2 separate regions of the Homo sapiens genome follow, and region 2 is linked to region 1. The links come from fine-mapping of genetic effects on gene expression. Tissue or cell type: whole blood. Region 1 holds a variant in brackets; the other region holds the start of a gene. All regions are shown on one strand. Distances are between the middles of the regions.

The links. PIP is the estimated chance that this variant, and not a neighbour inherited with it, causes the effect.
Region 2: it holds the start of LDOC1, and the variant in region 1 is fine-mapped to the expression of LDOC1 in whole blood (TOPMed, PIP above 0.99).

What each region holds. Positions count from the first base shown.
Region 1 is chrX:140,992,611-141,000,718 of GRCh38, forward strand. No RefSeq gene overlaps it. Among named protein-coding and RNA genes, the nearest start is that of SPANXB1, 5.9 kb to the right of the region's middle. The variant G/A (reference allele first, on the strand shown) is at 4,971.
Region 2 is chrX:141,173,203-141,181,310 of GRCh38, forward strand. LDOC1 (LDOC1 regulator of NFKB signaling) reads right to left here and starts at 3,927. Exons shown (of 1, transcript NM_012317.4): 1 at 33-3,927. The coding sequence starts at 3,819. The coding sequence ends at 3,379. RefSeq lists an enhancer at 2,992-3,491.

The DNA of each region.
Region 1 (8,108 bases):
AGATGACCCAGAACCATGAAAGAAGTTTATCCCTATGGTAAAAAAGGAAGTTGCTGGAGGCAAGAACAACTTGCCACCGTGGTGAACACTACAGGAATCAGCTGTATCTGAAATACTCACTGCTGCAGATACAAATTACAAACAGGGGGAAAAAAAAAAGGAAGTTATTTATTTCACATCCAGGCTTGCAGTCACCTTCCAGGACCCACGGTTGTCAGAGAAAGACAACAAGGATCCCATTTCAAAGCAGAGATTTAGTTGCAGAGTCCAGAGGAGAATCACAAAATTGGGCCAAGAAGAGTGGGCTTCGGACTATGAAGCAATAAATTACTGGCACACCCATTTCCCAGATTCCACCATTAACATTTTGTTACAGTTATTTTAACACATACCTATCCACTGGCCCATCCCTTTATCCATGCCTCGATTCCCCTTATTTTTGATGGATTTTAGATAGCAATATACTTCCTTCTAAATACTTCAGCATGCATAGTTAAGAATTTGATGTTTGATTTTTTCACTTTTATGTAAAATGGGTGTAAAATTAAATGCATAAATTTACTGATTTTTGCAAAATTCATATTTCTGTATAATCTTAACCCTATCAGCATATAACATATATCCATTGTCCCCAAAAGTTCTTTCATGCCTTTTTCCTAGTCAATCCCCTTCTGTACCTCCTCTACCTACACCCCCCTACCCCTGGGCACAAATGTTCTGATTTTTTTTTTCTGCTATAGATTAATTTTGCCTTTTGTGGAACTCCAAAGAGATGGAATCATAGGGTATGTACTCTTCTGTGTCTGAATTATTTCTCGCAGCATGATTTTGAAATGTATCCATATTGTTGGTCAATATCAATAGTTCATCCTTTTAGTATTCCATTGTATGGATATGACGGCGATTTTTTATTCATTCTCATATTACTAAACACCAGGGCTATTTCCAATTTTTGGCTATTGTGAATAAAGCTACTATAAACATTTTTATGTAATTTTTCTGACTTTTAAAAATGAGGTTAAATCTGTGCGTATGTGCGTGTTTTCTTACAACAACACTTTGTATGTGAGTGGGCATGAAGTGACCTGTATTCTAATGCAGGGACCATTATCCTTATTCTAAAATTTATTTTTTAAAATTATAATTTTTTTCTCTGCTTACCTATTAGGCTAGGAGACAGCAGTTGAACACAATCAATAGCAATTGGCTGAAGCAATGCTCCCCCTCACAACTTGATGTGTCTCCATAGACACTGCCTCATTTTGTTATTACTTCTCACTTGCTTTATTATTTTCCTGTTCAGTGTGTTATTAAATATACAAAACAACTATTGACAGACACAGGCATGGAAACTTTCTTTTTCTATTCCTTATTTTAATACTTCTAACAGTCATTCCCATACAATTATATACAAAATATCGTGGAATCTACTCTTAAAACAATAATTTTCGTATTTTTGTGTGGAAAAATACTTCATAATGACAGTCTTAAAATTTTGATTAGTGTGGTACATGCTCAAGCATTTTTATTTGGCAAACAGTTTAATCAAAATAGGGAAGTTTTGTCCATTTTCATTTCATAGACTGTTGGAAATTAATCAGTGATCTCTCAATAAAATTTTTAAAATATGTGTTAAACGGTGTAGAGAAGAATGAAATGAATTAGCTAACCATCTCCATGGTAACAGAGAATGGAACGGTGGGTGGCGGGAAAGCCTAGTAGTAATGAATGCAATACTATTTCTTAATGTTGGGAATATGATATGATCTATGCTTTTAAATAAAAGTTTATAAAAATTATTTGCATTATTTTTACTTAACATTTCTTTCTCATTTTGTTTCTGACTTGCACTAAATGTGACACAGCTGCATTACAGCATTTGTTTTAGCATATGGGCTAATGACAACTAACTATCAAATGTGTTGACTACCAAGTATTGAATACCAAATATAACATTTAATAACTTCAATAGTTCTCAATTCAGAACACATTGTCTCAGAAAAACAGGATTATAAAGGGGTTTGACTCTGAATCATACTTTAATTTAGATCTGCATAACATTTCACCTGGGCCACATACAACAGTCTTCTGTTTTCTCATTCAGTATTGTCTCCTTCTAAACAGCCTTGTGAGTCTTGTGAGTCAGTCTCGAGCGAAAACACAAATACTAGCTCCTCATTGTGGAAAGTAAGTCCTAGGCCTTTCGCATTTTGGCCCTACCTACTATTGCAGCCCTAACTTCCATCATACCTATGTGCTGCAGGTTTTCTTACTCCTGCCAGTTGAAGATCTTTACTCTTTCAGAAACACATTGCACTGTTTGCCCTCTCTGCCTTTGCATATCCTGCTCCCTGTATCCTAGATGGCTTTGCCTATTCTCTTTTCTGGGCCTTACTTTGGCCTGGATGAAATATTCTTTGTAAAAGGAAAATAAATCTTGGGGGCCCTAAATCACTGAGCTAAAGGGAAAAGCCGAGCTGGGAACTGCTTAGGGTAGACGAACCTCTCACTCTATTCAAAGTCATCCCTCTGACACTCACCTGAGACAAATGCATATCTGATTGCTTCCTCTTCCCTATTGTTTATGAAAAATACAGATTCACTGAGCCAGGCTAAATTGTGTATTCACTGGATGGCTGACAAAGACTCAAAATAATGCAATCTTTTGTCTTTTATCTACTTCTAACCTGGAAACCCCCACTTCGAGTTGTCTGGTCTTACTGGACTAAACCAATGTACATCTTACACATATTGATTGGTGTCTCATGTCTCCCTAAAATGTATAAAAGCAAACTGTACCCATGAGCACACTGGGCACATGTCTCAGTGAAATGGGAGGGTTCTCTCATCTCCCTCTCAAGATGTGCGACAGGCGTGTGGCTCCTCTGGCTGCCATGCATGTTCAAACCCCTCATGGGAAAGGGAACACACAGACAGGCAGGTGCAGAAGCTGGGGCAAGCACTCCTGGGCTCTAGACCCATGGCAGCATCCAGGGGTGGGTGCCTGTGAAGCCCAAAGCCCAAGTGGGTGTATATTACAGTGTGCTCTTTTAGCTTTGCCATCCACGGATGGCTTAAGTGTTAAACAGCTTAATGGACCCTCTGCCTTTTCACAAGGGCAGAAAGCCAGTGTGACAGCTTTCTGTATCCCAAACTCTTGTCCAGCATCCAGGAAAAATCAGGTCTCACATGGATTTGAAGGATGGTGAATGTGGAGGTTTTATTGAGTGGTCAGGGTGGCTCTCAGTGGGACGGATGGGGAGCTGAAAGGGAGACAGAGTCAGAAGATGATCTTTCCCTGGAGATTTGCTGTCCCCAGCTGAACTCCTCTCAATGTTCAGATGCTCCTTCTCTTCTCTCCTTCTCTGCCATTCTTCTGCTCTTCTGTTCCTCTGCTCGTCTGCTCATGGAGCCTAGGCTTTGGGGTTTATATAGGTACAGGATAGGGGGATGTGGTGGGTCCAAAGGCAACTTTTAGTCATGAAAACAGGAATGCCTGTTCCCATTTAGAGCCATGGGTTTCCAGGCTTGAGGGTAGCACTTTTGCTGGGGAACCACCCTCTTCTACCCAGTATTTCCTTGTCTCCTGTCTGTATCATCAGGACTTCCTGAGGCTGCGTCATGGGTGCATCCTTAACCTTGGCAAAATTAATTTTCAAAATTGACTGAGACCTGTCTCAGATATTTGGGGTTCACATTTGGGTAACCACAGAGGGATTCTGAGTGTAGGTGCCCCTGACCTTTCACAAATCTTCTACTGGTACTTGGTACCAGCTTGAGCTATCTTCATGGTTAAAACCAATAGGACAATTTGCTGAGGCCTGAAAGCCACCCCTCCAAAGAATCCCTGATCTCCAAAAATTTGGTTGCAATCTAAACTTTATTTTGCTGCACAACTCCTTTTCTGAAGATTTACCTGCTTTCAACAAGGAAGGCAAGTTCTCCTGCTTCCATCACAATGGAAGGCAGGTAATTCCCTTATGAGTTTGACCTTGCTCCCAGCACGGAAGATGAATCTGAGTTTTTTCCTGCTTCTAGGGTAATAGACAGCAGTCTTCAGCCTGAGACCCATCACTAGGTAAGTAGCTCAATAGGGGTTTTGTCTTGTCTAAAGTTAAGATTAACAACAAGCTGGTCTTAATTTCTCCTTACCATTAGAGTGCTCAGTAATCATATAAATTTTGTGATATTTTGTGTTTTTGCTTAACTTTTTTTTTTTTTTTTTTTTTTTGCCGTTGTTTGTTTCTGTTTTTGTTGTTTTGGTCTTTCTTTCTTCATTGGGAAACTATCCAACTTGATCAAATCTAAAGGAAAGTTCCAAATTATGAGGAACAAGGCCTCTGAAGTGGCTAAATTTCCACAAAAGGTGGGGAGGGCTTGGGAGGAAAAATGCTCAGCAAAAGAAAAAACAATAAAGATTTTTGATTTTGAGTACTTAAGGGGCTTTATGTACATAGCAAGGCCACTTTTTTGCTATCCAGGCCAAATTGAAAGAGCAACGCTGTTGCCCCATGCTGCAGTTTCATAGCTAAGGTTCTGCCTTCTTTTTTTTCCACAACAGCCTGGGTTTGCTTCCTAAATCAAGCCATTTCTGGTTTGATACTTGTTTCTTTTGAAACATCAGCAATTTTTCCTAGCTAAAATATGGTAATGAGATTCAGAAAGATTTTTTTAAAGGAGCTCAAGGGTTAAAAGTCAGCTTAATTAAAAGCTCACATCTGAGATGTGTGTGTGTGTGCATGTGTGCATTTGTATTAAAAGGCCTTTATTTTTTCCTCTGTTAGAAACAGATAATCGGTGTCGTGAAGAAAAGACAAAGGATCTCTCAGCAAGGCAATCTTTACTTTCTGCAGAAAGGGTGCCCCTCGCAGATCGAACAATCGTGACAGCACACTTGAACAAAGGAAAAGCAGACATATTTATCATTTACGTATTTGGGTCAGCCTTACTGCTCTGTCCTGCATCCATTG[G/A]CTGGAGCTGGACCCCACAGTCTTCAACTGATACCAAATCTGCTAATAACCTAAAACTTTCCTAAACAGGTAAGTGCAAGGGAGAACAAAGAAGAAAAAGAAGTTGCTTACTAAAGGTTTAAGGAAGCAATTAACATTTCAAAAAAGGAAGGGGCATAAGCTATGAGCTAAGACTTGCCTGGGCCTGTCCAGACATGCCTGAGTAAGCCAAAGCAACTAACTGGGCTCAAGTGTAAGAACTAGTAGTTGAGAGGAGGCTTTAGAGTAAGGAGCTATTATTTATAGTGTCTATTATTTTATTTTTAAACCAAGATGAATTTTGAAGAAAAACTTTACTACTTTCTACATCTTCTCTCCTAGGACCTTGTCTTTTTTTGAGCAAAAGTTTTTTTTTCTTCTCAGACGATGACATTCTGTTTTCTTCATCTACTTCTGCTGTCTCTCCTTTATTTTGCTACCCTCTGTTGCATGAGGGACGTAAAATAGTTTATAATTGCCTGCATTCCTTAAAGAAAATGGAGAAGATGCCACACTCCCTTTTGGGGAGAAACCTCTATTTTTCCCAAGAGTGTAAACACACAAGTTCATCTCAGATCTTAAGCTGCTTGCTTTTGTATTGTGTTACTTGATTTTTTGACTAAAACTGTTATTAGTTTATTCTTGGATTTTTAAGGAAGAAAGTAGCTTGAACACTTAGAAATGTCTTTGTTAAAAAAAAAAAAAAGGACACTGTAAAAGCATCACTTGGTGTAGCCTCATAGTAATTCTCCCTTTTTGGAGAACTAGGATTCAGTGTGGGCTCTGCCCAGAGCTCAGAGATCCAGTTAAAAGACAGGTAGTCCCTATCTAAATACAACTGGTCTCCTTATACAATCCTATAATATATTTCTACAATTTTGTGTTTGATTTGGCATCCATCTTCAATCTCCTTCTAACATCACCAGACTCTTTCTCTCTGTGCTTTGAGAAGCAAATTTCACTATCTGATTTTTTTTACCTAAGGGTTCCTTTAATATGCACATTTAGGGCTATCTAGCTGACAATTGCCTAGGGCAATAAAATAGGTTATGAAGAAATTGTAAATCTAAAATACAAGGAAAAAATAAAGGCCTTAGGAATTTATAAGATCTACTTCTATCTACATGTCTAATACATCTATGTATTTATGTGTCATGGATATGACATTTCACTACTAAAAATGTAGAAAAGAGCTCTAATTAATTGGCTTAACAAAGGCACTTAAATCTAATGCTTTTCAGAAAAATAGACTTTAAGCCAAATGCTTTTTCAAGTTCATGTGACTTAAGCAAATCTTCAATAAACAAGCTGGTTTTAAAAATTTTAGTGAAATTGAATTAGAAATGGCTTTGGAATTCTCAACATACATTATTTATCTCTGCTAGATGTCAACATTTGGCATAAGGGTTCTAAAGCTATGAATGCAGCTCAAATAAGAATTATCTTTGTTTATGTAAAATTTAGTAAGTAAGGAATTTAATATTGTTTGGTTAATGAAAATAGCTAAATCCTGAGTTATTGCCAAAAAAACAAAAACAAACAAACAAATAAACAAAAAAAGACCCTTTATCTAACCTTAATGTTCTTACTCAGGACAACCTGAAATTCACAGGTTATAAAAATGGTTAACAAGGACATAACTTTAAATGGTAACTATTACAGTTTTCATAAGTAATCTGGGTAAACTATTAGAAAATTAATTAATTACACAAATGTAACAGAATAAGTTCTTGTAGAATATCTTGTCATATAATTTAAAATCCAAAGTTATATTAAGCTAAATAGTAGATATTTATTACACGTCTGGGTCATTTCCAATTTTTTTAATTATAGGAAAACATTTTTCTGTAAAAAAGAAATGTGATCTTAAAGGAAAATACTTTTTGTCTAATTCGAAGCTTATCTAAAAGTTATTTATGAAATTAGGTAATCAGTGAATAAAAACAATGTGAAGGAAGTTATGAACAGGCATTTTTGGCACAAAAAGTTAAAAGGAAAATAATTTTATCTGAGCAAGAATCTTGTATGGTAAATTTTTGTTCTAAAATAAAATAACTGGTTATTTAAGAAAAAGGAAGCCTAGGCATGGTGGCTCATGCTTGTTAATTCCAGCATTTTGGGAGGCCGAGGTGGATGGATCACCTGAGGTCAGGAGGTCGAGACCAGCCTGGCCAACGTGGCAAATCCCTGTCTCTACTAAAAATACAAAAATTAGCCAGGTGTGGTGGCACGTGCCTGTAGTCCCAGCTACTCCGGAGGCTGAGGCAGGAGAATTGCTTGTACATGGGAGGCAGAGGTTGCAGGGAGCCGAGATGGCGCCACTGCACGACTCTAGCCTGGGCGACGGAGGAAGACTGTATCTCAAAGGAATAAAGAAAGAGGAAGGGATAAAACAGAAAGTCCAAGCTGTCATAAATGATTTGTATAAAGTTGTCTATAATTAAAGGGAAATTATTTATAATAGTCTTTCCAGATTTAGCTTATGATATTAAAAAAAACACTAAAAAAATTCATCAGAACAATAAAATTTTCTTAAGGAGTTGATTTACTCTTAATAAATTAAAAGATTTTAATTCTTTAAACCCAAAGTTTAACTTTTATCACATCTCACCATTTTCGGTTTACTCTCCTCTTTTAAAAGGTGAAAATAATAACTCTCTCTTTCAACTCATTTTCAGCTCATATAAGTTTCTTCTTTTTTTCTCTTGTGTTCTGTTTGTTGTGGCCTCATGCTAAAAATGTTTTTTTTTCTATTTCTTTTTTCTTTTCTTGAGGTGGGGTCTCACTCTGTCAGCCAGGCTGAGAGTGCAGTGGCACAATCTTGGCTCACTGCAACCTCCCCCTTCCAGGTTCAAGCAATTCTCCTGCCACCACGCCCGGCTAATTTTTGTATTTGTAGTAGAGACAGGGTTTCACCGTGTTGGCCAGGCTGGTCTCGAACTTCTGACCTCAAGTGATCCACCTGCTTCAGCCTCCCAAAGTGCTAGGATTACAGGCATGAGCCACTATGACAGGCCAAAAATTTTTTCTTCAAGGTCTAAAAAAGTGTTTTCTTCCATCTGTGTAACTTTCTGTATGTGCTTTTAAAGTCCTTGTGCCATTGAGTTATAGGGCTTTGAC
Region 2 (8,108 bases), 180 kb after region 1:
TATCTATTCAAATGAATAGAAGAGTCCAAAGATATATTGGTATATTTAATACGATTAAATGATTACGACATTTAATATGACTAATTTCATTTCATTGATAGTATAATTTCAGCGGCCATTTCAAGTCTATTACGCCCAAAATGAGAATTCAGGGTCTAAGTTCATATTTATTCAGCATTCCTACCTATTTTTAATAGTTTTGATCAAAGTGGCACTTTTATCCTTAGACATACTTCTACTTCTTCCTTCTTTTTTGCCATGCTTTATGCCATTATCATGAATTCCTCCCTGGGTGGTGGAGCCCTTGCCAGTATCTGCGCTTTTATTGCAGAATCTGCCCCCAAAGTAACCAGAATCCCTTTTCTGCATCTCACAGCATAACCTGTTTGTCCATGATGTAAGAAGGACATCACTTAACACACACACACACAGAGCACACACATACTGGGTCACAGCAAGCTCATGTGCACATGCACACATACTCAGGAAATGTACACTTCAGATCACAGAAGCTCCCTGGCCTAGTTCTCCCAGATGCCATTCAGATGCTGCCTTGGCATGGCATCCTTACTGAACCTCCCTTCCTCCACAGAACACCTACTCATATGTCCTCAACTTCCACCCCAGAAAGGTCATTCCCAGATCTAATCACAGCCCAGATTCTCTTCCTGGCCCTTTCCTGTAACTAATCATCAAAGTTCTGACCCAGGGCACAGTAAAAGCAGCAGACTGGACTCGCTATGAAGGCAGAGATCACATTTTATTCAAAGATGTTTCTGTAACTCCACTCAGCATAACTGGGCCATAATCAGTTTGGAATAAATGACTTTTGGTCTCACTGGATCCTTTACCTTTTAGATCTTGCTCACTTTTCCACATTTATCCCCAATTCAAGGCCTTTCTAGTTAGGAAGAAAGTGTAATTATCTGGCCTCACACATATTATGTCTCAAATATAATCTCTCTCTTCCAAGGGGTTTTGTATATTTTCCAAGGAGACTGGGAGAAGTGATCAATGAATTCTAAATAACCAGCTGTCTCCTTGATTCAGATTTGGAGGCGGCAGCTCCCTGAAGAGCCCCAGATCTCATTTCCACCCAAGCCTCAGCCTCTTTTATTAAGTCATACGCAACCCTGTCCCCACCCTCCAGAAACAGCTATCCTAGGGGTGAGATATAACTCCTACCCTGAACTTTGCCTGTCCACCACGTAAAACAGCTTTGTTTCTTGCTTCATATAAGACTCCAAAAAGTAAATGGGGTCTTATCATGCTCTCATTTCCATTCTCCCTGAACCTGCTCTGCTCCTCTTCACGCTGACATTTTCCTACTAAAGCCAGGCTCAGAGTCAGAGACTTGCTTTCTGAGACTTCTGTTCCCTGGCCCAGGAGTAACAGCCCATGGTTTGCTGAGTGCTCACCATGTAGCAGGGAAAGTTCTAAATGCTTCATGGGTATGATCTCATTTAATCCGCACCTATGAGGTGATTAATATGAAGACCCATATCTCATTTAATCAACACTGAGGTTTACCAGTACAAATACAATATCTTGCCTCAAAAGGCCTTAAACAGTACGGAAATGTGTTATCTAAATTAATTAAAGGTTATAAAGTCAAGTTGGCTCCAGACATGGTACAATGAGGACATCTGGACAGATATAAAAGAGAACTCTGAACCCCTCATATCCTCCTAAACCTTTCTAAGAGGCAGTCCTCTCAAATCCCCAACCAAGCTGCTCTGCATTAAACATTTCAATGACTTAACCTGGAGCAATGGCCTCACACAGGTATGCAGCTTCTTCTCAGCAGCCACCCCCTTCACTGCTCTGAACCCTCCAGGCCCAGAGATCTCAGCATAGCCCCTAGATAGCAGTACAAGGTCTGATTTAAGAGATAACCAAGCATCTTGCTAATTTCCATAGGGAGGAATCTGGGACACATCTATGAGTGGGAATTCTAAGGATGTCTGTCCAAGGAGAACGAAATGTTTGTTAAGATCAGGCTATATCTTTATGGGTGCACTTGCCCAGGATCCGGGACTTAATGTTAGCTGGAGCACCTGAAAGTGACATGTTGGCTATTTGGAGTTTGAAAGTGACAATCTACTATGTTGGCTCTCTGGAGTCTGAACTCAACAGCTGCACATAGGCAATAAGGATTAAGGGGCAGAACTTCCCTGGCACAGTGTTAAGGAATCCAAAAGCTCAGAGAATTAGGAGCATTACATATATATGTCCAGGTTTACGCCTATTGTTATGGTCTAATTATTAATACTGCTCTCTTTGCCGTCTGCTCAGCCAACCCTTAACCACGCCACCCTGGAGGACCCAGAGAACACACCCTTTGCCAGGGCTTTAAGAAATGCGTTGGTGAAGGGAGCATCAGAACCCTGACAAAGCCCTGAGGTAGCTGTCCCCAGCAGCCTGGAGATGACAGCGGGGAATACTAGGATTGGTTGTATTCCCTGATTTCCACGGGAATAATGGTAGTCAGAGTGACAGTGGTAGAGGCCAGTGATAGCACTTAACCATTAAAAGACAATCATTTCTTTTTTTAGTGCTTGATATTTATTGAAAATAATGCCAATGCTTTTTCCAGGTAGTATTGAGGAGCTGGGCTGAGTGCTTGTTTGTTTTGTTTTTAAGTACTATTTGTCCAAATGCACACATCTGTGGGACTGCTGCAATTTTGAAAGAAAAATGACAGCTGTGTAAAACCAGTGCATAGGAAAAAAGAAGTGTCAACAATTTGGCTGCCAGGCACACCGCGCCCCTGCAGCAATCTGGTGGGGCAGGGGAGGACACTCGGAGTAGGTAGAAAACTAACCAGGCTGAACGGCCCCTTCAGGGGTTGGTGAGCTGTCCAAATCAATGTCTGAAAAGGCATAGCCAACTCTGGCATTTTCCAGGTTGGTCCTGATCTCGAAAGGTGGTAGTCTGTAGGTGGGATGTGGTGAGTGGATGTGAAGTGGCAGCATAGTTCTCTGGGAAGATGTAAGCCTGGCAGCAGGGCAGGTGGCAGCAGCAGGGCTACGGGTGGTCTGCGCAGTTTGTAACAGGGGCCTGGCCAATAGCTGGGGTTCAGGACACAGTTCAGATTAGCAGGGGAGGGATCCCGGGGATGGCCAGGGTAGATGACACTTCCAAGCACTTCCGAGTGAGTGAGGCTCCAGCCCCGACCCCAGCAGCAGGTAACTGGAGCGCTATTCCTGGAACAAAGACAAGCACTACGGAGAAATGAAGAGAGAGAGCAGACGGGCGCGGGTAGGTAAGGGGACCGGAGGGCAAGGGGGAGAGCAGTGGCTCCTGGCGGGGTGAGGGCTGCGGGGAGGGGGTGGCGGCGTGCAGGGCCCTCCCCCCCGAGGCCCGAGGGTCGAGGGCCTAATAATCATCCTCCTCTTCTTCGTCGTCGTCGTCTTCGTCGTCATCCCAGCCAAAGCACTGTTTCATCTCATCGAGGAAGGCCCGGTAATCACCTAGGATGGGGCTATCCATCTCGATGTAGGGCACCACCCACTCCTCGGCTTCCCCGGTGAGGAGGCTGATTAGGAATGCCACCTTCATGGCGTCGTTGCAGAATCGGTTCTCGTTCACGAGCATGTAAGACGCCGTCTGCACGATAAACTCGGGGAGCCGGGAGCTCTCGCCATTAAACGTTTCGGGGAAGGGCACCGGGCAGCTCGGCGGACGTACCTGGCGCAGCAGGCTGGCCCTCTCGCACACCAGCAGCCGCAGCTGTTCCATGAGCTGGCTGTTCTCGATGCTCAGGGCGCGGTGCCGCATCAGGAGCGCGTGCAGCAGCAGCACCAACTCATCCACCATTGCGAACGGCCTGGAAGGACAGGACTCGGCTCGGTTCGGCTCGGCCAAGGTGCGCACGGAGCCCTCGCAGGAAGTGCGTGTCCACGGAGGCGCTTGGTGGCCAGGGGCGGGGGGCGGGGGGCGGTGTGCGCCGGGGTCCGGGAGGCTACGCAAGCTCCGCCCACGAGGCCATTCGGACGGACGGTGCGCCGGCGCGACGGGGGAGGGGCGTGGCTAGGCTGGGAGTGGGGGGGCCGCGGCGGCGTGGGGGCGTGGCCGGGATGGGAAGGGTGTAGACAAAGAGGGCGTGGCCAGGAAAAGGATGCGCTGGGTCGCTGAACCACCGGCTTGTGGTAGGTCTCTCGGCGGGCAGTTAAAGGCTGGGATAGGCTCCCCTAGCTCCTAGTTGTGGGGCCTGCGTTAGCAGAGGACTTGGCGAGCGCTGAGTCCGGTCTCAGAGAAGGTAAATTTGTTCAAACTGAAAGGATTAGCCACCCTTCTACCTAGGTAGCTTGCACAACTCAGTGTTCCTTCGTGGGTCTGTGGCCACTAGATTCTCTTGGCTTGATGTTTTATTAACACATTTTCTTTCTTATTTAAATCTCACTCAGAGAAGTATTGACACTGCTGGCTGCCCTGTGGGAGTCACACTTCCTTTTAGAATCATGAAGACCCTCAGGGGGTCCTGCCTTTCATGAAAAAGGTAGTATTTAAACAGTGACTTCTTTAGTAGGGAAATAATATGGTATACACACACACACACACACACACACACACACACACACAAAACCTAAGTAACAAGATATAAAAAAGTTCTGCAAAATCAGCATCCAATAGTCAATTGCAGGCATCCCACATATCTTTGATTCTCTATTTCTTGTCTTGCTATTAGTGCCGTTGGCCACTGGGTATTATTCTGTACTTAAAAATGAACTGTTAAGATGTTTGTGTTTTTAAATAATTTTGTTTTTCTACTTTGAATGGATCCCTGATTCTAGAGCCAACATGAATTGTTGGCTCTGCTTTCAAATATATTGCCAATTCAATCACGTCTTGTCATTTCTGCCACTGCCACCCTGATTCCTAGCCTTTCTTTCTCACCCAGACTGCTGCAACTAATCACTTAGCTTTCACTCTTTTCTTCCTATAGTATATTCTCCATAGAGTAGCCACGGGAATCCTTTAAAACAAAAATTAGGGCCGGGCGCGGTGGCTCACGCCTGTAATCCCAGCACTTTGGGAGGCCGAGGCGGGCGGATCACGAGGTCAGGAGATCGAGACCATCCTGGCTAACAGGGTGAAACCCGTCTCTACTAAAAATACAAAAAATTAGCTGGGCGTGGTGGCGCATGCCCGTAATCCCAGCTACTCGGGAGGCTGAGGCAGGGGAATTGCTTGAACCCTGGAGGCAGAGGTTGCAGTGAGCCGAGATAGCGCCACTGCACTCCAGCCTGGGCTACAGAGCGAGACTCCGTTTCAAAAGAAAAAAAAAAAGATCCCTTCACTCTCCTGCTCAAAATCCTCCAACAGTTTCACCTGAGAATAAAGAGCAAAGTTGCAGCCAAGGCCTACAAGGCCCCTCCTTCTATCCTGTGCCTCTTCCCAGTTTCTGCTGTGCTCTAATCACTGTCCTCCTTGCTGATTCTCACACCCATCAAGCAGTTCTGGCTTCATAGCCTTTGCATCTTCTATTCCTTCTGCCTTGCAAGGCTGTCATCCCAGTTGGCTGCCTGACTCCTCCTACTGCTTTCAGAGAGAACTTTTCTGACCACCGGACCTATCAGAGCACCCTGTTCTCTGCCCCCAATCTGTAACCCTTTACTCTGCTTCATTTATCTACATAACATTTATTGTGCTACCGGCCACCATGTCGTATGTATATACAGTACTTTGCTCATCATCTGCTTCCATTTTAGAATATATAAGTCAAACACTGCTTTTGCTATCTGGTCTATCCCTAATGCCTAGAAAAGTTCTGGCCCAGAGTAGAGGCTTCATTAATGTTTGGCGAGTAAAATCATCCCAGAGTGAAGATGCTGAGATGAAAATCAGAAGTTGTCGCTGCACAAAGAGTCAAAAAATACTCTTCAAATTGTTAAATGTAAGGTTGGGCGTGGTGGCTCATGCCTGTAATCCCAGCACTTTGGGAGGCTGAGGGGGGCAGACCACCTGAGGTCAGGAGTTAAGACCAGGCTGACCAACATGGAGAAACCCTGTCTTTCCAAAAAATACAAAATTAGCCAGGTGTGGTGGTGGGCGCCTGTAATCCCAGCTACTTGGGAGGCTGAGGCAGGAGAATCACTTGAACCTGGGAGGCAGAGGTTGCCTGAGCCGAGATCACGCCATTGTGCTCCAGCCTGGGCAATAAGAGCAAAACACCATCTCAAAAAGAAAAAAAAAAAAGAAAAAAAATTGTTCAGTGTATTTTATCTCTGACCATGGATCAGTCTCGATTGTGAAACAATGACTGATGTAATAAAACTGGCTGAATAGATTTTTAAAGAAATTCGATTCGGTCCTTTAGGATAGAATTGAATGATCATCCATGGAAGTAGGAGGCTGGGAAAGAGCAGAGAAACAGGGCCAAGCCCCAAGCAGGGACACGGGGAAGATCACAGTGGTGAAAGGATAAGCAGTGAAAAAAAGAGATAGGAGGAATGTGAGCTTTTGGCCTCTCCTGTGCTATGAGCTCCGCCACCTGAGAAGTTGGCAGGCAGGGATCCACTCTCACTCTTAATTTTATCTTCAGCACCTGGCAGTGTTTACTAGCTGCTCCGTAAACATTCAGTGTAAGGATTGAGGGGAGGGATGTGAAATGTGGAAAGTAGGTCTCTGGCCATCATGCCCATTTACAGTTCAGAGTACAGGATGGGCCTGACTGGGACAGAGGTAGTGTCCAGCTTCACCTTTCATATCCAGGCCCTAATACAGGAAGAGTACTCAGGGTTCGACTCCTGGGAGCACACTTTCTTTCTTTCTTTTTCTTTTTTTTAGACAGAGTTTTGCTCGTGTTGCCCAGGCTGGAGTGCAATGGCACAATCTCGACTCACTGCAACCTCCGCCTCCCGGGTTCAAGCGATTCTCCTGCTTCAGCCTCCCGAGTAGCTGGGATTACAGGCATGCGCCACCACGCCCAGCTAATTTTATATTTTTAGTAGAGACAGGGTTTTTCCATGTTGGTCAGGCTGGTCTCAAACTCCTGACCTCAGGTGATCCACCCGCCTCGGCCTTCCAAAATGCTGGGATTACAGGCGTGAGCCACCGCGCCCGGCCTAGAGCACACTTTCTGTAGCAGACACTGGGCCAGGTGATTGGCAGGGCTGTCACAATGACTCATACACAAGGACCAGACATGGGAATGGGCATTTTAGAGCCAGAGACCCAGGAGGTAAATATCTAAACCTAATAAAGCAATAGGTTGATGGTGCTATACCTTCATGCCAACCTCTCTAACTCTAAAGCCCGCCCATGCCCTTGCTCTGAATAATTAATATGTGCTGGACCCTTGTGACTTCAGTGGGCCCAGGCAGGTCTAGTGGGGAACCAGAGATGATTAGGCAGATGCTGCCCTAATTTTCTCCCTACAACCCCACAGCAGAGGGATTCAGGGAGGAAACCAGACGAGGCAACCACTATTGTTCCCTCTGAGTGTGCTCTGAGACCCTGGAAGACAGGAAATGTCCTGCCCAGAACTGAGCAGTGACTTTGGGAGGTGCTTCCCTGGTTGGAGAAAGGGAATGGAGACAAGCAGCTTAGCACTGACTCACAACAGAAGCAGTCAGGAAGAGGTATGTAGTATCAGTTGATAGAAGATGTAGAATCTTAATGCTCATTTTAACCAGCTTCCAGGTGCCTGTGAGGCTCTCCCACCAGTGCCAATGCATATCAGCACTTCCTTCTCCATTCACCCTGCTCACAGCTGCATGTCGCCTTCCTCATTTTCTTTCCCCTTCTCGAGTGGCCCTTAAGTGTTCCTTTCCACTTAACGTGAATATGCTGGGGGCAGACACAAGTACTCCCTGTGACAAGTACTCATAGGGAGTACTTGTCTCGGGCCAGTAAAATTTATCAGGACAGCTCTGGGTTGGAACGCCCTAAGGGTGGCTTAGACTCCACCGTTTGGCAAGAGCACAAGTCCAAGGCACTCACTACCACCATGTTTCAGGCTCCAAACCGTGCCCTGGTACACATCAAGCATCCAGACTGTAAAATTCTCTTGAACATGAAAATTTCCCATGATTCTTGAGCCACCAGATGAGTGTGCACACATCGACTGGGTGAACTAACTCAGCACTCAAATATACAGCCAG